Linked DNA regions of Homo sapiens: region 2 is linked to region 1. The links come from fine-mapping of genetic effects on gene expression. A gene starts in region 1. The other region holds a variant in brackets. All regions are shown on one strand. Distances are from middle to middle.

Region 1 (10,914 bases):
GTATAAGGAAATGGAAAAAGTCTTTCACAATCCCCACCACTGAAGACAACTGTTCATATTTTGGCATACATGATGATGTGTGACCTGAACACATCACAGTTCAGCTTGGAGTAAGCAGGAAATGCAGACAGCTGCTGTTCCCTTAGCCTCACTGTGCAGGAGCCTCTGTCAGTGGATGTGCCTTGCCATGGTCGATGTCCTTCTAATGTTTAATGATCCGTCATTCTGTATAATGTAACCCCCAACCAAGCCAACTGCAGCATCTAGTGCTTAGCCTGGGGTTCCAAACCCCAGGAACTCCTGGCTGTGCTGGACTTGCTGAAAGATAGTGTATTACTGGTCTCCTGTGTGTTACCTTCCCTACACATGGTACTGAGGTTCTGAATTCAGCCTATAAAGTGAAAATTACAAAGACTCAGAATTTTTCTTGAAAATCTCTTATGCAGACACCACACAGATGAAGTAGTTGGTTATGAACTGTGATGTGTTCAGATGAGTCGTCTTTACTAGTTAATCTGCCTTGCTTAGTCTCTGATGAGCAAACACAACTGACTATGGAAGTGAAAAGTATGAATGTTGTGACTCCTATGTAATGAACACATAATACATATATTTGTATCTAATTTATCTTTCTGCTTCTATTTTATTCACAGTAAGTATCTAACTGTGGTATTAAAAATGCTCTGTAAACATTTGAGTGCTTGGTATATGGGATGGATATACTGTTATTTTGTAATTCATTCCTTATATTGAGCATTTAGGCTATTTGTAATTTTTGCTATATGCTGAATAAATGTCCACATCTCATATGCTTTTCCTTTAGGATGAATTCCTAGAAATAGATTTCCTGACTGAAGAGGAGATACGTGAACACTGGGAAAGCAAAGCTGCTAAATTTCCTGTCAGGAAAAACTATCTCAGTTGACATTCTCACAGGCAGTATGAGTGATTCTCTCATCAGTTTTTATTTTGATATGTAAAAAATGATACAACACTAATTTAACTTCTTTTTATTATTTATAAGGGTGATGTTTTCATAATTAAACTATTTCGTTCATCTTTATTTCCTTTTGTGAATCAACCATTCCTGACTTGTAAAACTGCAATCGTTCTGCTTTTTAAAAATTGACTTGTATAAACTCTATGAATTAAGAAATATAATCTCATTTTTGAAAATATTTTCTTCAGCTCATTTTCAGTTGTTGATGGTATATTTTAGCATACCAAAGTAGCCCCTTTTTTAATTGTAGTAAGATATAAATAACAAAAAATTTACCATTTAAACCATTTTCAAGTGTACCATTCAGTGGCTTAAAGTATAGTCACAATGTTGTACCACCATGACCACTATCCCAAACACCAACTCTGTCTCTGTGCCCATTAAACAATAACTCTCCATACCCTCTTCCCTCCAGACACCAGTTACCTCTATTTTACTTTCTGTCTCTATGAATTTGCCTATTCTAGGTACTTTTTATATGTGGGGTCATATAATATTTGTCTTTCGTGTCTGGCTTATTTCATTTAGCATAATGTTATCAAAGTTCATATTACAGTATCTGTTAGAACAAAGCAGTTAATTTCACGTGGTCAAAGGAAGGTCAGGGAAGTTTTCCTTGATGATCCTTACTGCTTTTAAGTACCAGATGATCAGTAAAAATTCATCCATTATTTCCTCCCATATTTTTGTTTGAACTTTAAAACTTAGCTCCTTAAGTTCATTTGAAATTTCTGGGTGTGAGCTGAGAATCTAAATAGATTTTATCAATAGTTTACTTCTCTCCAAGTACCATTTTCTGAACAATCCTTTCCTTCCCCATGACTTATGATGCCTCCTTTATCATATGTTAAATGTAGCTTTTGTCTCTAATTTGCCTCCATCCTCATCCCCCTACTTTGCAATTCCCCAAAGGGGCCAAGAGGCTCATTTCTGGTCTTTGCTGCATACTTGGCTCCCCCTGCCAGACCATCCTCAAACCAGCTCTGGTTGACTCACTCTTCCACACTTCCCACCAACTATCTCAAATCTTCTCAACTCAGACCTCTGGCCTCCCACCTACCTCCATACCCACCTTCACTCACAACCAGTGCCCTTGCCTCCTATCTGTACAAAGAAAGGAGAGCAGCTCCTCTCAGCAGACATAAACCTATCACTAGCTCCCCTTCACAGCTTTCATTATCCAGTCACAGCTTTCATTATCCAGGGTCATTCCTGCTCCTGTGCTGAGCTCAGCCTCTCTGGCCTGAGAACTCTCAAGCCCTTTCTCAAGTGTTTGCTCCTTCAGGTGTATCCTCCTCTGATGCTCCAGCCATCACTCCACTGCTCTTCCTGTCCTTGCCCAAACCCTCTCTCTCTCCACTGCTCTTCTTTTCCCTGCCCAAACCCTATCTTTCTCTTCACCTCAGCTAATTCTTGCAGATCCTTCTTTCTCTCCATTTCCTCTTCTACTTATATAGCTTGCGATAAAGATAACTTTCATGTGGTTACAGCCAATGAGTAGTTTTCATTCTTATCTCTTTTTTTTGTAGAGAAGGGGTTTCACCACATTTCCAGGCTGCTCTTGAACTCCTGAGCTCAAGCGATCTGCCCACCTTGGCATCCCAAAGTGTCGATTACAGGCGTGATGTGGTTTGGCTGTGTCCCCACCCAAATCTCATCTTGAATTGTAGCTCCCATAATTCCCTTGTGTTGTGGGAGGAACCCAGTGGGAGATAATTAAATCATAGGGGTGGTTTCCCCCATACTGTTCTCATGACAGTGAATAAGTCTCATGAGATCTGATGGTTTTATAAGGGGAAACCCCTTTCGCTTGGCTCTCACTCTTTTCTTGTCTGCCACGATGTGAGATGTGCCTTTCACCTTCCGCCATGATTGTGAGGTCTCCCCAACCACGTGGCACTGTAAGTCCATTAAACCTCTTGCTTTTGTAAATTGCCCAGTCTTGGCTATGTCTTTATCAGCAGCATGAAAAAGGACTAATACAAGCCATGAGCCACCACACCCAGCCTTCCTTATCTCTTTTGACTTCTGCAGCTTTTAGCAGAGTTGACCACTTTCTCCTTGAAATATTCTCTCATTTGACTTCCTGGACACTCGACTTTTTTTGATTCTTCTCCCTTTCTATACTTCTCGCCACCCTCTATCTGTCTCCCATACAAGCTCACCTTCAAGGCTTGGTTCTAGACCTCTCTTCTTCTTACCTTACAGTCTCTCCCCACAGATCTTGTCCTCATCCAGATATTCAGTTCATCCACTTGGGATTCTTTCCAACTTCTTCTCAAAATGTGATCTTGTCAGTTCCCTGCAATAAACTTGCCAATGGCATTTTAGGATAAAGACAAAGTAAAATAAAACATAGAAATGCCTTACCATGGCCTACAAGGCCTCTTTGGGCTCTGCCACCACCCTAATTCCCATTTCCCTCTCCTGCACCAGCTGCATTTGCTTCCTGTCAGTCCCTGGTGCTCTACTGGTTTCTACCATGTGGTCTTTGAAGACTGTGGGCCAGATTCCATGCCCAAAATGCTCCAACTTTTAGGCCTAAGTGTCACTTTCTCAAGGAAACTTTTCTAACCTTCACGAATACATGAAGCCTCCTGTCCCCATTACATGATTTCATGGCACCATGGACTTTTACACTTGCGCACAAGTGGTACAACAGCTGCAGCTGTTCACGTGTTGTTTCTGTCTCAACACTACATGGACAGACTGGTCACCACAGTGTTCCAATGAACTGCTTCCCTATCCTTCACCCAGCTGCCTTCACTGCCTCTAGGAGGCATTCCTGGGCAGGTGGCCTTCTGTGTGCTCTTCCACAGCACCCTGCTCCGGACGCTACTGCAGCACTTATTATGCTCTTACAAGTTCTTCATTCTTCCAACCAGTAGGAATTTTGTTGCTGTTTGTTTGAAGTTCAAGCTGTGTATCAGGCATACTAGGCACAGATCTGCTAAAACAACACTTCTTCACACCTCTGTTTGGATCACAGATCAACTCAGAACCTGAGAGTCACAGACTCTCTTTCCAGAAGAAAAGACCCACGCTCACAACATTTCGCAAATGATTTTAGCAGGATTCATGGACACCCTGCAGCCCGGCCATGAATGACCTGCACTAGATTTACAAGCGTTGGGAAGGCAGGAACTGAACGGTGTTCTGCTTTATTCCCTGCACCCAGCAAAGAACTTGTTCCACAGAGAGACAAAATTAGTATTTGTCAGGTGAAACTGAGTGAACAAGTGGATGCGGTACATTAATGCAGTGGGTAAAACTGGGTTAGCAGAGCCAGACTGCCTGATTCCTGGACAACAGTTGTGTTGTGACTTGAAGAAGTTACTTCACCTCTCTGAGCCTCAGTTTGGCATCAGGAAAATGGTGATACTATCTCCTGGGTGACTGCAAAGATCAAACGAGTTAATACCATAAATCACTTAGAATATGCAGAAAACTCTTCACATATACTAAATCATTAAATCATCACAACAACTCATTTTAAAATGAGGAAACAGACGCAGGTAAAGGAACTTGCCCAAGGTTACTCAGCTAAAAAAAAAAACAAAAAACAAAAAACCGGCAGAATTTGGACTCAAACCCCACAGGTTGGCTCCAGAGTCCTGCCTGCTCTTAGCCCTGTGCCCCCACATATAGCAATGCTTTTGGTAAATGTTTGTTAAATCACAATGTGGGCTGTTCTAGGATGCTTGTTTCTTAAGCATTTTTGGGGAGTGAAATTCACTTCTGTAATACACAGTTATGGTTAGTATGGTCTTCTCTACACCACCACTGGTTTCAATAAAGTTCTTCTTTCGTAACACATATGCCCTGCTGCCAGTTTCAAATTGACCAACGTTTATAAGCAAGGAAAAACGAGGGTCCACGGAAGATCTCCAGGACCGATCAAAAGGCCGCACATTCACTGTGGGGCCTCCGCTTTTCCAGAGAAACCCGGCAGGCTGAGCTGAGCGTCTGGCGAGGCGTGGGGTTTTGCGGGCCCTGACCGCTGCGGCGCCGCTGGTGAGGAACACGCCCAGGAGCAGAGGAAGGGGGCGACTCACCCGTCGGCGTCAGCTCCAAGCAAGGCACAGGGAGTCCCGGGGGCCAGGCCCCGTCCTTCCCTCTCTCTCCGGCCAGCCTCCCCACAGTCCGCAGTCCCCGAGGCCTGGAGCCGGGATTTCGGTCCTCGGTCTCAAGAAGCTCCCGACAGTTCTCAGCAGCGCCAACCAGGCCATCAGTCCCTTCGCCCATGGCCAATCAGGGCTCGGGAGATGACCGCCAACCCCCGCCCCCCCAAGACACGCCCCCGCGTCCCAACGCAGCCAGTCAGAGCGCGGGACACAACTACGCGTCCCTCCCCGCACCACGAGGGCGAGTCGGAGTGGGAATCGGCTTTCCAGGCAGCCCAGCCTGTGCTGGCGGGGGCATCTGGCATTTTCACACCCTTTCCTTCCCAGCATTTTAGGAAGCGGAGTTCCAGTAGCTTTGACGCTTAGAAAATATAAGAAAAAAAAGAAGTAACAGAAACCGCTATATCTTTAAGATAGAGCCAATCACTGTTCCCAAAATAATTCAGTTAGGTAAAGAACCAACTTACAAAAGAAATGTTTAAAAAACCCCCAAAGTTCTTTGAAACACATCTGAACTCTTCCCCGCCCCCACCCTACCCCAGCAGTTAGCGACTGTCTTTAAAAGCCATTCTCCTTTCTCTCCCTCCTTGCCACCTTCACCTAAATACTCCCCTTTTCTGATAAACTGCCAAGTGGTTTCCATTCTAATTATTACCGGTGATGCCCAACCTCATACACTAAACACGTTAATTTCTCCTTAAAGCCAGGCTGAATGTCTCTCTCATTTATTTTCACATTTATCCATCCAAAAAACAAGTATTTATGGCAGGCCTGCTAAGTGCCAAGCATATTGAAACAGCAATGAGAAAATAGAGGGGGAATAAAACACATTCCCTGTCCTTATGGAGCTTACATTCTAGTGGAGGGCAGAGATATCAACAACTAATAACGTGACTAATCACACCTAGTTAAGTGTTATCGAGGACAGGGTGCCCTGAGCTGGGCCTGGTGATTCTGTTTGTGTGGAGTTGGAGTCAGGAAAACTGGTTTTCCCAGCTGGAGGTGTCTGCTGTCAGGTGTTCGTAGCACACTGTGCACAGTTCTGCCGTCGGTGGCACTGGCATACAGACTGCCCTCGCACCCTGTGGAGTGAATTCCTTGAGGCTACTGATTATTTTTTCTGTCAACAATGCTGGGCACACAGTAGGAACTCAGGAAATGTTAACTAAATCTTTGAGTCTAGTCTCACTATGCAGTTTAGGCTCAACAGGCTATATTGAGAGGAGCTCACACGTGCATTTAACTCCACTGAGTAGCAGCAAGAATCCTGGCTCCTCAAGATCACCCACCTCTGATCTCTAGGATATTCTAGAATGATCTGAGCAACTCATGTGTACAGCTGGGGGGTGTTTGTCCAGCAACTCCTGAGTTATCCGAATATAAAAACTCTATTATGCATAGATTTATTGCACACTTTTTCCTGAAATAAAATGATTTGGGGTCCAGACTAACCAAAGTGTGTCATTTGCACTTAGGAAAAGGAAATTAGGATACAGAAAAGGAAGTTAAGGAATGTAAACTCAGGACTTAGAACTGCAAGCTGCCATCACTGGTCAGGAGGGAGGGAGCAGAAATGTGCACCAGGGTGCTGGAAGCTTGTATTAGGGCTCCACGTAATTGTGCAAGGAATTACAATACATATGACCCCGTGCATTGTAATCAAAACTTGAAACTGACAAATCAGCTATGCCAACTGTATTAAATAAATGCTACTCAAAGTTTTTTCCAGCCCAAATATTTAAACAGTGCATTTCTAGGACCATATAATCAGAAAAAAAACCTTGAATGAAGAAAAGGGGAAAAGAACTTACAATTATGCATATTATGTACAAGAAAATTACAAACACATTTGAATTGTGAGAAGATCCTGAAATTTCTAGTATGTAAGAGATGCATTAAAAATACTGATAGACTTTTATATCTCAAATTTACTTATTTATTTTAAGCAAATATGAAAAACATAAGGACTTTGTACAGTTCATTCAAAACCCTGGTTCTCTCAATATAATTTTCCCAAGTTGTCAGTACAGTTTTTGGCAATAAGAATTGAAGAAGTATTTGCTGAATGAGTAAAATGTCTTAAATCCCTTAACCACAAGTAGGATTTCTAGTTAAGGGGAGAACACTGATTCGAACATCATGTATCTGCTCAAGTAGAGCATGATGACTGATGCCTTTTCTTTCCCTTTCAGTGATTCATTTTGACCACTATTTACACCAAACTGAAAAAGCTTTCCAAAAAACTCCCTAATAAAAAAAAAATCCTCTTACATTTATAAATAGCATACCAGTGCTTATGCTGAGATAGTGTTCTTTTACTGTTTATTTATTCACATTAAAACTGAATCTTTGGCCGTGCGCGGTGGCTCATGCCTGTAATCCCAGCACTTTGGGAGGCCGAGGCCAGCGGATCATGAGGTCAGGAGATCGCGACCATTCTGGCTAACGGTGAAACCCTGTCTCTACTAAAAAATACAAAAAATTAGCCGGGCGTGATGGCACGCGCCTGTAGTCCCAACTACTCGGGAGGCTGAGGCAGGAGAATCGCTTGAACCCAGGAGGCAGATGCCGCAGTGAGCCGAGATCGTGCCACTGCACTCCAGCCTGGGCGACAGAGTGAGACTCTGTCTCAAAATAACAACAAGAAAACTGAAATCTATGACCTCTTGTACGGTGATGGTAAATCTCAGGTCTATGAATTTCTCAACTCTGCACTGTACAACCAGGTCCAAAGAGTAGGATGTGAGGTACACTTACCATAAAAAACAATTAAAATATTACTTCACTTTAACAGTGGTGAAAAAAGAACGATAAAGCACAGGATTTTTTCTTATTCTTTTTCTCGGTAATGGATTTCCCACCTGCCGCCCCATCCCCGAGACAAGGTCTCACCCTGTCATCCAGGTTGGAGTGCAGTGGTGCAATCATAGCTCACTGCAGCCTCAAATCCCCTAGATCAAGCCATCCTCCCACCTCAGCCTCCCAAGTAGCTGGGACCATAGTGCACACCACCACACCTGGCTAATATTTTTGTTGTTTCCTTTTGTAGAGATGGGGTCCCAAGATGTTGTTCAGGCTAATCATTTTTTTTTTTTTGAGACAGAGTCTCACTCTGTCGCCCAGGCTGGAGTGCAGTGATGTGATCTCGGCTCACTGCAAACTCCGCCTCCTGGGTTCATGCCTCAAGTGATTCTCCTGCTTCACTTCAGTTTCCCAAAGTGCTAGAATTATAGGCATGAGCCACCCTGCCTGGTCTTCTTTACTTTTTTTTTATTTTTATATTGATTTTTTAAAAATAGAGATGGGGTCTTGCTAAGTCTCCAGGGCTGGTCTCAAACTCCTGGCTTTAAGTGATCCTCCCGCCTCAACCCCACAAAGTGCTGGGATTACAGGCAATGAGCCACCACACCCAGCTCAGATGAGGTCTTGATCTGTCCACCCAGGCTGGAGTACAGTGGCACAATCATAGCTCACTGCAGCCTTGACCTCCTGGGCTTCAGTGATCCTCCCACCTCAGCCTCCAAAAGTGCTGGGATTATAGGCGTGAGCCACCACACCTAGCCTCAGTAATGGAATTTATTGATCATTGTTAATTCACTATCCAGGATATTTTTAAAAATGCATATCATCTAAAATGTTATCGTTTCTGTATTTTTACTCAACTTTTATCTTCAGTTATCTTTAAATTATCATACTAAATATCTATCATGATTAATGATGGGAAAATGAAAAGCCACTGGTTATAATTCAGAATGGCAAGAACTAACCTACTAGAGAACACTAAAGGGATAATAACAATACTAATAAAAATAATGGCAGCTAACCAGAGCTGTGGCATACAGCTATGCAGACTGTGCACTGTACACGACAGGGGGTGACACAGCATGGCAGCCCTGTGGCTAACACTGAGTACCCTATCACATGCCAGCTCATAAGTATTTTACATGGAACTGAACTATAAAGCAGATACTACCCTCATCCCTATTTTATAGATAAGAAGAAAGAAGACATAGAAGGTTAAACTTGCTCAAGACCTCAAAGCTAATGAATGGCAGAAATGGGCATTTGACTCGAGAGCTCACTCTATTGATTGCTAGCCCATACTGCCTGATTTATGGTTACAAATGCCATTACTTGAAAAAAGTCCCTTTAGTTTTACCTCTTTCTTGCATATAATTTTGAAAAACACTGTTTAACTAAACATATGGTAGCTGTTCCTTCAAAATGATGATGTGGTTTATAGAATCTCTTTGTAATTTGTAATCATATATCATACAGCAATACTCTCTCCCTTACCAAAAAAGAAAAAAAAACACGTACACAAGATTTCATATTTGCATATACTTTAATAACAAGTTCATTTTAGTAATAAATGAACAAAGAAACAGAGACAGAGAACTTAACACATGATACTTCCACAAGTTTGGGTCTAAAAAGGTTTACATCAAAGTTTAAAACATATACTGTCTGTGTTAACAGAGGCTACAATACCAATTTGGATTACGCACATTATCTAAAACATTATTATCAAAGAGTGCAAAGTTAGATCAAACAACATCAAGAAAATTCTGTCCTAAAATTTTAACGTCTTTTAAGAAAGTCTAAAAACCTCCTTTTTTCCCACTGACTTCAAAACTTTGAGTTTTATATCAGAATATCAATTTGTCATTTTAACTTTACCATACATGAAAAATTATCAAAAATATATCGATGGGTCTATACTAATTGTGACTGTTTATATTTACATTAAGCAAATTCTCTTGCCAAGTTCTTTATATACAAATTACCAATTGTCCTCTGTGAAATTCATTAAAAAGTTAAAAACCACAGAAATGTCATTAGAAACAACATATTTCAATATGTAACTGCTTTCCATCAATGAAGAATATTTTTAAATAACTTAATTGAAAAGTATTGAACTCCCCACCAATTTCAGCTGCAACAGTATTCCTCCTGAATGTTTTCTGTGATTTAAGGGGGAAAAAAAAACTAGGTAAAGCTTGATTGCAAATAATTCAATGACAAAAATGTGATGAGTGTTTATTGACCTTATCTTCAAGATACTTATAGTCTAATTAGGTTGACATAAAAAAACTAAGCAATAAAAAATGTAAACAGTGTTAGAAACTGAAGAAACAGAAAATTTTTAAAAACTGGCAAATCCAACGTATAAATATTTTTCATATTAATTTAAATCACAAAATGACATCCCAAATCCAATTAAATTGAATGCAGGCAAGGCTTTCTGATACTTCTAATAAGGGCCAGCATTTTAAAAAATTTTGAACTATTCCCAAATTGGAAATAATTTAGATTTTAGAAGCATCATAACAGATAAAAGAAATTTATCAACATTTAAGAGGCAAAGATTTAGGGGAAAGTTCATAAAAAGATTATATTAATGTCACTAAAATAAACAGGCCACTTTAATTGTTTTAGACTCATAGTTACATAGTAAGGAAATAAAAAAGTTGTCTTTTTCTAAGAAAAAACTTGACCACAAAATCATAAACATCTCTAATTTAAAGAGCATTGGTTCAGATGAATATAAAACTGGTGCAACAATTTCTCCAGTACAGATGCATGTCTCTTGACCAAAAATTAACTGAGTTTGTAAAAATTGCTTAAAAATTAATGCCTCAAGATTTTCTGGTTTGAAAATAGAGATTTGCTCCATTTTTGAAATTATCTTAATTTATGTTAATTATATACTCTTCTAAAGCAAGAAATACAGCTCTAAAATATTTACCTAATTAGTGCTCTGTCTCTGGACTTTAGGACCAATACTCT
Region 2 (10,914 bases), 89 kb after region 1:
AGCATTTGTATCTTGCTCCAGACTTTGTAGAACTTCTAAATTTTACCCATTAAGCATGATGCTGACTTTTGAGCTGATTTGGTAGCCTTCTATTTCTGGTTTAGTACTAAATTTTATTAGGAATAAATATTGAACTTTATCAAAAGTATTTTCAGCATCTATGGAAGTGATCATATAATTATACTCTGATCTACTAATATAATGACATATTAATATATTTCCAATACTGAATTATTCCTGCATTTTCAACATGAATGTAGGATATACATTTAAAATATGCTTCTGTATCCTATTTGATAATTCTACACATTGTTTCCTCTTCTTTTATCATGTTTTAGAACAATTTATATATCACTGAAGTCACATGTTTCTTAAACTTTGGTAGAACCCAACTATGAAACTATCTAAGCCTGATGTTTTTTGTGGAGGTAACTCTTTGACAATATTCTTTATTCCTTCCATAGGAGTTATGCTTTGAAAAGATCAATAAAGTATAAAAACATCTAGCAAGTCGAAGAAAGAAAAAGAAGAAAAAAATAAATATCTATTAGTAATGTAAGAAAGGGACTATCATAGCAATTGTGGTACTTATTAAATAAAAGATATGGTATACAACTTTAGCAATACATGTGAGAATGGAAGACTAGATTTAACGGCAGGTATTTTAGGAAAATATGCATTAATAGCAAATTCAATTATCAAACTGACTGACAAGAAACCTAGAATAACCAATAAACACAAATGAAATAAAAAGTATGTCAAAGATGATCTAAGTCAGGAATTGTTTCACTGCAATGAACAGAAATCTACTCAAACTAGGTCATACAAACAAAAAAAAGCATTGGAAGAATATAGGAGTATTTCATGGAAACTTGTGCTCAAGTAGTATAGTCAAGTCTAAGGATTCTGGAATGTTAGAACCCAACTCCTTTTTGGAATTGAATTCTCTCTTGTTTGTTCCTTTCTGCATATGTGTTCATTCTTTTGTCTTTCTACAACCACCTTTCTATGCAAAGATATCTATTTTTTATGACTACTCAGTGCCAAGGCCCAATACCAACTGACTACAGTCTCTGCATCCCTTTTCCAAATTCCAAATGGGCAAAGCTTAGCTCAGGTATCAATTATTGACTCAATAAACCTTCCAGAGGAGAAAGAATGAAAGTAGATTACAGAGTCACCAGCTACTAAATTAGAGGCTAAATTCATGTATTAACTAGGGGTTTGATGTGGGCAGTTTGATGTGTGGACTGGACAGGAATCTCGAAATTGCTATAAAAATAATCTGACTCCTCTCAAAAACCCCTGACCCAAATTGCTTTATAGGTGAATTCTAGCAAAGGTTTATGGAACACAGAAGTCCTATGTTATTTATACTGTTGGGGGCATAAAAAGGATAGGAAGTTACTATAAGGCTAACATGATCTCATTGTTAAAATTAACAAAATTAGCTCCCAAAAGAAAAATATGAATTAATCACACTTGTGAATAGAGATGTCAAAGTTTCCATGTAAACACACATTCATATTAACACATATGTGCATATATGCACATTTATATTTTCATATTTTAAAACTACTACCAGTGTTGTATTTCTTATCTTCTTATGGGTGATATTACACAGACACTTTCTTCGTATCATTTGAATTCTTTACTATGATTGTATTTTTCATCAGAAAAAATCCACATTTTAAAAATTAAATAGCCTAGAAATGATCGTAAAATATTAAAAATTTACATTAACACTTATATTTACTTACCTCACTGAATTGGAAATGATCCAATAAGTAGTGTTGGAATAACTGGCCATCATTTTGTGGAAAATGATCATCATTTGGGGAAAAAGAAGTTAGAGTGTAACCTCAGTGTCAATGTAAATTCTAGATGGAACAAAGATTTATATGTGTAAATAAAACTCTAAATGTATTACAAAAACATTGTAAATATTTATATCATCTTTGGGTGGGAAAGGGGCATTGAGGCTTATCGCTAATGATATAAACCATAAAAGTTTGAATACAAAAAAGTTTAACATGTAAAATATATTTTTTTATTTCTCTCTCTCTCTCTTTTTTTTTTGAGACGAAGTGTCACTTTGTCACCCAGGCTGGAGTGCAGCGGCGTGATCTCGGCTCACTGCATTCTGTCTCCCTGGTTCAACTGATCCTCTTGCCTCAGCCTCCTGAGCAGCTGGGATCACAGGCATGAGCCACTGTGCCTGGCCTAAAATATACTTTTTAAAAATCATAATCATAAAGACTGCCATTACTGGCTGGGCACGGTGACTCATGCCTGTAATCCCAGCACTTTGGGAGGCTGCAGAGGGCAGATCACTTGAGGTCAGGAGTTCAAGACAAGCCTGGCCAACATGGTAAAATCCTGTATCTACTAAAAACACAAAAAAATTAGCTGGGCATGGTGGTGCATGCCTGTAATCCCAGCTACCAGGGAGGCTGAGGCAGAAGAATTGCATGAACCCGGGAGACAGAGGTTGCAGTGAGCCAAGATTGCACCATTGCACTCCAGCCTGGGCGACCAATTGAGACAGAGTCCGTTTCAAAAAAATAGAAAAGACTGCCATTCCTTTTGTCTTGCTATATGCTCCTCTTTCAGTATTCTCACCCATTACCCTAATTTTAATTATCACCTCTCAAAAGACTGTTTCCAATTAAAAATACACACCTAGTCCCAACTTCTCTTCCTAGCTTCAGTCCCTGCTAACCAACTGTATCGGGATATCCCACTGTTACCCTAACCTCAATACACCTAAAACAAACTTTGATACACCTAAAATTAAGCTTATCCTAATTTCTAAACTAGTTCCTTTTAACTTTGTTATGTCTCTCTTCATGGGATCTCAAAATATAATCAGTGACTCCTCCTTTTCCAAAAACCTACATGTCACTCTACTCTGATGGTTATTCTTCTTTTTAATTATCTTCCTTTCATTCAATCTTTCCTTTCTATTCCCACATTACCCCAAATTATGCCCCTAATTGCAAAAAATATTAACACTAAGCCAGACAATTAAAAAGGGTATTTTAACCTCAAAATTAGAATCTGACCCCATACCATACATAATACCAATAAAAGGCTTGGCAGCACATTCTCTAAGACATATACACTGTAGCACAGTAATTTAATATTAAGTCATTCTATTACAGCCTTTTAACTCCTGCTGGCCTACATCACTTAAAACAAGAAAACTAAATAAAAATACGTGTCATTAAGATATTTAATTTGTTGTTGCTGTTGCTATTGAGAAGACAGATAGGATAAGATAAAAATGGCAAAAGTAACCAGAGTCAATAGAATTCTCTTTTTTTTAAATAGCATTTTTTAATCTCTAGGAAACCCTAATATCCAATTATTTAAAATATGCAACCCAAACCAAATAAAAATATTTGAGAATGAATTTTATGTCAAATTTCAAAAACCTATCGTTATATCTTTTATAATACTAAAAATTATTTTGGTATTACCATCACAGAAATCATACAATTCTAGAACTAGAAGGGACCTTGGCAATTATGTAGTTAACATACATTAAAACTACTAAGCTGGGCTCGATGGCTCACGCCTGTAATCCCAGCACCTTGGGAGGCTGAGGCGGGTGGATTACCTGAGTTCAGGAGTTCAAGAAAAGCCTGGCCAACATGATGAAACCCCGTCTCTAGTAAAAATACAAAAATTAGCCGGGTGTGATGGCGCATGCCTATAATCCCAGCTACTTGGAAGGCTGAGGCAGGAGAATCGCTTGAACCGAGGAGGTGGAGGTTGCAGTGAGCCAAGATCGTGCCACTGCACTCTAGCCTGGGCAACAAGAGTGAAACTCTGTCTCAAAAAAAAAACAACAAAAAACAAAAAACAAAAACTACTAGTGATCTCCAATTTATCAATTCACACAAATAACCAAATGCCTTCTATACCCTGTGCAAAGCATACAGAGGCCATGCTGACTGATGGACATGGCTAATTTCAGTTTGACAAAAATAAAATAGGCTACTGCTTTCTAATAAGTCCAATTCCTATTCCAATCAGTTAAAGTTCTAGACATATGAAGAGTCAGTTGTGTTTCTCAAACACGTTCATGCCAGCTGAACTTATTTTCATCACGTAATTTAAATTTTATATAAACTGAGAATATAAAAAGTAAAGTTTTATAGAAAATGAAACTGAATGCTTCAAAAAGCCTTGATAAAAGGTGAATCACCAAAAAAGTTTGTCTAATTAACTATCTGTAGATAAGACAGCTAAACTAGATGGGAAGAAAAAAATGTACTAAAGGAATTCTGTATTCAAGTTTGCTTCACCATGGTCTTGAAGGTTTTAATCAACTTTAACGAATAATAGGCAATATCAGTCTGCGGGTGTAATTTACACAGGAAAGTCAACTTGAAATTCCATCAGCAAAATCAGCAGAACAATACTCATTTATACATTCAATACACAAGGACATACTGACACCCACCCTGTGCCACGTATTGAGCCACCAGACCTAACTATGGTTTTAAAAATATTACTCTGAATTCCACATGGAACAGATGGGAAAGGTAGGCACAAAAATGGAAGTGGAAAACTTAGGAGGCTTTTACAGTAATCTTGTAAAAAATGCTGGTGGCCTGGATATTATGATAGCAGTGGGAGGGTGTTATTTGAATGGATATGAGATTTAATTTGAAGGGAAAAGCTCTAACAATTGTTTTAGGACTAGATATGAAGTTTGAGTACAAAAAGAAGAAAGGGTAGCTCCTGGGTTTTTGCAGAACTAGGTGAATGTTGACATTTACTGTGATATAGAGAAGCCATGGGAGGTAGAGGAGATGGAGACAAAATCAGCTTAAGATGCTTATTTTGAATCCAAGTAAAAATACTAGATAGGCAAATCTGGAATTCAAGATAGAGGCCAGTGCAGGTAATACACGATAGGAAATTATCAGGTATTCAAGTATGCAACTAGATGAGATCACCTAAAGAATAAATGTGGATAAAGAAGTGAGCAAAAGAACTCAGACCTGGAATCAAGCCTTACATCAAAAACTATCAAATTAATGCACACTTTTCTATTTTTTTTTTAAATGATTTCCTTTTTCAAGTAACTGCAGGTTCCAATGGTGTCACATAAGAGACGATTTCTTAGAAACTCCCTTTTCAGGCTGGACGCAGTGGTGCATGCCTGTAATCCCAGCACTTTGGGAGGCTGAGGCAGGCAGATTGCTTGAAGTCAGGAGTTCAAGACTAGCCTGGCCAACATGGTGAAACTCCATCTCTACTAAAAATACAAAAATTAGCCAGGCATGGTGGCACACACCTGTAATTCCACTAGCTACTCGGGAGGCTGAGGCAAGAGAATCACCTTGAACCCAGGAGGCAGAGGTTGCAGTGAGCTGAAATCATGCCACTACACTCCAGCCTGCGTGACAAAATGAGACCCTGCCTCAAAGAAAAAAAAAAAAAAAAACCTCTCTTTTCATGTAAGTACACTGACTCATGTATCTTCAAGAAGCTGATCTAATTTGGATATGTGTCCCTGCCCAAATGTCATATTGAAATGTAATCCCCAGTGTTGGAGGTGGGGCCTACTGGGAGGTGACTGGATCAAAAGGGCAGGTTTCTCGAATTATTTAGCATCATCCCTTTTGGTACATCTTTACAATGGCGAGTTCTCATGAAATCTGGTCATTTAAAAGTGTGTAGCACCTCCCCCCGACTCTCTTGCTTCTGCCTTTGCTATGCAACATGCCTGCTCCCCCTTTGCCTTCCACCATGATTGTAACCTTCCTGAGGCTCCCCAAAAGCAGA[C/T]GCTGCTATGCTTCCTGAGCAGCCTGCAGAACCATGAGCCAATTAGACCTCTTTTCTTTATATATAACTCAGTCTCAGGTATTTCCTTATAGCAATGCAAGAACGGCCTACTACAGAAGCATTCTAGAATTCCTCCTCTCTCAGTCTCATATCTCACACCCAGCACTCCCCAACACATACACACAAACACACACACACACACCTCTAGAACTCACACTCATCACCTTTACCCCTTTTCCCACCCCTTTAAAGTTGTCTTTCCTTTGTGCTTTCACAATTGTATTTGCAGATTTCCACAGAGGTCCTTTTTAACATTGTATGTTCTAATTGTCCTTTAGTGGTGTGAAAGTTTCCTTACAGGCAAGAACCATAACCTTCATCTTTGTATCTCCAATGACTTGCACAGTACCTGGTAGATAACAGGCTCTCACTGAATGTTTTCCTGAATGACTAAATGAAGGGAGAGAGATTTACCCAAGGTCAGTCCCACGGCCATTTAATAGGAAAGTAAGAATTATAAAGTAGGTCTTAGTACAGTCAGATGTTCTAAACTTACTTCAGTCTGTCATTCAAAGAATTACATATTCAGGCCTCACCTTATCTATATATTTTATTTCTTATTTATCATCCTGTGAATACACTATGCTCAGTCTTGACTAAAAGTTATCTATATATTTTATTTATTTATCATCCTGTGAATACACTATGCTCAGTCTTGACTAAAAGTCTAGTTATCTAACCAAAATTCACTTTTCCTCAGCCTGTTCAGAACCTATGCCTTGAGCTAATTTCTTACCTCTCTCATAAAAAATCCCCCTCACATTCCAACCTGAATCATTTCCCCCACTCCCCTCCCCTCACCTGCTACACACACCTTTGTTAACATCCTATACAATCTGATTTCTATCCTTACACCTACATTGAAGTGTTATCTCAAAGTTCACCAAAAGCCTTTGTAACAGATAAAGTATAATTTTCAAAACAGTAAAATTATGACTCTCATACAAACATGAAATGAAGATCTGGCAAAAAATTTACGTAATTCATTGATTAAGGAAGAAAGAAATAAGATGTTAAAACTGATTCAAATAAGAATCTGATTTACTATTTCTCAACTTACAAAATTCATTTTCATGGCACAAACATAATTTGCATTGGTATGGGCAGAAAACATTTGTACTGCTTTCAGTTTTCTACAACTTAACTTTTATCCCTTTTTACAGAGTTGTGAAACAGCCTTGTCAATCAAATACAAAGATGCATATCCCTTAATCAGAATCATATAACTCCTGGAGGGTCCTCTAAACAACATCTAGCATTCTAGATATGCAATAATTTCCTTTTCCCACCTCTAAGTCTTTGATAATTTTTCCTACATAATTGTCAAAACTCATCCTAACCTGCCTCCTGTAGTGCAAGGTAAAATCACTCTTGCCACATTCAGTTTCCATAATATGGCACTCTCCTGGATCCTCTTTTTACCTCTCTGGTTCTCTTTCGCCTCCTTCACCAGCTCCTATTCATCTTAAACATAGTATTCGCTGAGTTTTTTCACTGGGCTTTTGACTAACATAACTTTTTATGGCTGTATCCAATCTCATCCAGGCATGCTTCATCCATTACTTATACAGGAATTATTCCCATATGCACAGATCCAATGTCTATAATTCCCAGAGTGAAATTTCTATTTTCTCCATTTCTCATGTTGATATCTTAGCAGTGCTTCAAATTGGTCAACAACCTAAACTCACTCTTTTCCTCACCTACCTATGGTCTATTTCTGTGTTTCCTAACTTAATGTCTAATTGTCACAGAGGCACAAAGTATGAGGATCTTACACTCTACTTTCTCCCTCACCCTCCTCCTCTGTGAAACTGTGTTTTCCAGGCAGTCACCTAAGCTTTTCACTGTACCTCTACAGGCTTCCTCTTATATCTTCCCCTTCCTCATAGCCTTTCCCCTTGTTTAAGCCTGTATTATCTTTCACTTGAACTGTTGATAAAGTCTCCAAACTAGTATCTTGACTCTCTCTTCTAACATTCACTCAGCTGCTAAATTTATATTTCCCCAAACAAGGGCAGCTTTTCTGAACTATACCCACTTATCTGAGTTCTTATATAATAGGCAACAATGTTGTTTTAGGATATCCACCTACTTCCTACTCATTTTACTTCAGTTACTTCAGTTCAGTCAAGCTGATTCCACCAGTGAAGCACACTTCAGCTAAGACAATCATAAACTCATGATGACTAGTTCAGAAACTGGCCCAAAAGAGCCAATGAAGTGCCATAAGACTTTTGCTGAGACTTCTGGGCCAAAGGTGTATGCTTTTTGCTGAGATAAATGCCATTGTTATTGCTATATTTTGCCACCAGAGGACAGCCTATTTGAGAAGTCAAGGCAGAATAAGTGAAGTTCAGAGATGCAAAGAGAAATGTGATCCTGGTAACATCTTCTGAGTCCTGGTATCAAGCGATGTCCAAAGCCAGTTTCCCTTAGGTTATTCAATTACATCTACCAATAAACTTTCTTTTTGCTTAAGCCTGTTTGACTCAGGCAACCAACTAGCAAACAAAAAAGTACTAAACAACATCTCCTATCTTTTCATGCACCACATGACTCAGCTACATCAGCCTCCTCACCACTATCAGAATACTGTGCCTTTCCTTAAGCTATTCTTTCAGTCTGGAATTTGCTTCTCTCTGCTTGGAATTCCCTTCCCTCCATGCCTTGCTTATTAAGATCCACTTTACACTTCAAGTTTCAGTTTAACTGCCTCAGTGAAATAATCACCAGAGACTAGAAAGAAGCAGAGGGCCAGATTACACAAGGATTTGAAACCATGCTATGGCTTTTTGAACTTTAACCTAAGGGTAAAGAAATGTCATTAAAAGGTTTTAAAGCATAAATGACATGACCAGATTTGCAATTTTAAAAAGATCACTCTACTTGCTGTGTAGCGAATGAATTAGAGAAGGGCAAGGGGGACAATGATTTGTAAGCTACCCAAACAACCTAGGCAAAGAGAATGGTGATATGGGCTAAAGAGACAATGGAGAGGGAAGAATGTATTTATGTAACTATTTTATTTCTGAATAAATCTTCCTCTGTACTATAAACTCCCTGAGGGCAGAGAAATTACCTGTTGACTATCATGCTATCCACAGAAATTAGCAAGTAATTGGCACACAGTAAGGACTCAAATGGGCAAATGGAAGTATCATTTGTGAAGACAGAAAACACAGGAAAACTCAGTTTGGGGTTTGTTTGTTTTTGTGCAATAGAGAAGGATGAAGATGAACTCTGTTTTGGACAAGCTGAGTTTGAGGTAATGTCATATATTCAAGCAGGCAAATGGGTATATATGATACATACAAACACACACACACGTCCGGGGATCAGGAAAGAGATTTGCGCTGAAGACACTAACTTGAGAATTCTGGGCATAGACGAGTAAATGGTAACGGACTTTATGAGAGGAGATAAGATTGCCTAGAAATATGTGAAATGAAAAGAGGGTGGAGATCACAGACCTCAGGGGCATTTAAAGGTTGAACAGAAAAGGAGAAGCTAAGGAAGAACACTAATAGCGCTGGCAGGAAAGCACAGAAGAGTCCTTTAATAAAGCCAAGGGAAGAAGAGGAAGGTGTGGTCAAATGTGTCAAACATTGTTAAAAAAAAATAAAAAAGAAAAAAAGAAAAAAGTCAGGGAATGGGCAGATTTAAAGTATCCTTTGGATAAAAATAGTTTTGGTAGAGTGGGTGGGAGTGAAGCCGGACATGCCTTAGTTTGGATTGGGTTCAAGGGTAAGTAGAATATAAAGAAATGAAGTCAGCCACTATTAGACATCTTGCTCAAGAAATTGGCTACAAAGAAACTGAGATACATAGTTGCAGGAGTGGAACACAGTTAATGCTAAGTTCTGTTCCTTTGTTGTTACAGGTTGTGTATGTTTTACAGAATTTGATCTTAAGCATGTTTAAATGTTGATTGGAGGCAACCTAAAAAGAAGAAAAAGTAGAAGAAAAGGTAAGAATAAATATAAAAAATGAGCAAAGTCTTTGAAATGGAGCACAGAAGAAGAAACTCGTTTTGAAAAGAGACAGCAGTATCTCTTCCACTGAAGTTGTATACTAGAAGGAAGAACTAGTAAGGATGTAGGCACATTTATAGATTTGGTTACTGAAAATTAAGAGAGCTTACAAGTCATAGCTTCAAATGTGTAATGAACATGTTGAAGTTTAAATTCTAAAACAAATCTGTTCATTGAGAATTTTTTTTAAGTTATGAGTTTAAGATAGACATTAACATATAAATTATATAAAGTAGCTGTCCTATCCCTCAACCTTAGATTTATAAGAAAAATTAAAACAATATTTAATGCCTACTATGTATAAGCCACTATGCTGTGGAGAACACAAAAAGGCTCTTTCCCCAGATACATGTATAGCCTGTTTCCTCTTCCTTTAGGTCCCTGTTCTCACATTCTGCTTTATTTCTCTCCATTGAATTTACCACCACCTGATACATTATTTTTGTCTTACTGTCCGTTTTCCCCCCACTGGAATAGGGCAGCAACTTTTTCTGTTTTATTCAATACTGTATACCCAGCATCAATAATACTGCCTATAATGGATAGGGACACAAAATAAACTTTTGATTTAAGAGGCAACTTCTCTTCAGGAAGGTACTATCTGTTAAGTGAGAGAGAGATTATATACAGAATACATCCCTGCTATGGTCTGAATGTCTATGTTCCCCCAAAATTCATGTTAAAACCTAATCCTCAATGCTACAGTATTAAGAGGTGGGGCATTTAGGAAGTTATTTGGTCATATGCATTGTACTGTCATGAGAGGGATTAGTGCCTGATATAGTTTACATATTTGTCCCCTTCAAATCCCATGTTAAAACTTGATCTCTAATACTGCAGATGGAGCCTAGCAAGAGGTATCTGAGTCATGGGGACAGACAAACACAAAAAACTGGTACCAGGAATGGGGTGTTGCTATAAAGATATCTAAAAACATAAAAGCAGCTTTAAAACTAAAGCTGCTTAGGGGTTGCAATCCTAGTCTCTGATAAAACAGACTTTAAACCAAAAAAGATAA

What was found.
Region 2: its variant is fine-mapped to the expression of MTERF2 in whole blood (TOPMed, PIP 0.98).

What each region holds. Positions count from the first base shown.
Region 1 is chr12:106,981,914-106,992,827 of GRCh38, forward strand. MTERF2 (mitochondrial transcription termination factor 2) reads right to left here and starts at 5,233. Exons shown (of 3, transcript NM_001033050.3): 1 at 5,056-5,233; 2 at 3,202-3,312. It overlaps CRY1 (cryptochrome circadian regulator 1), which reads right to left. Exons shown (of 13, transcript NM_004075.5): 12 at 10,874-10,914; 13 at 9,451-10,088. The coding sequence ends at 10,874.
Region 2 is chr12:107,071,175-107,082,088 of GRCh38, forward strand. All of the region lies in intron 1 of CRY1 (cryptochrome circadian regulator 1), which reads right to left. Among named protein-coding and RNA genes, the nearest start is that of CRY1, 17 kb to the right of the region's middle. The variant C/T (reference allele first, on the strand shown) is at 5,803.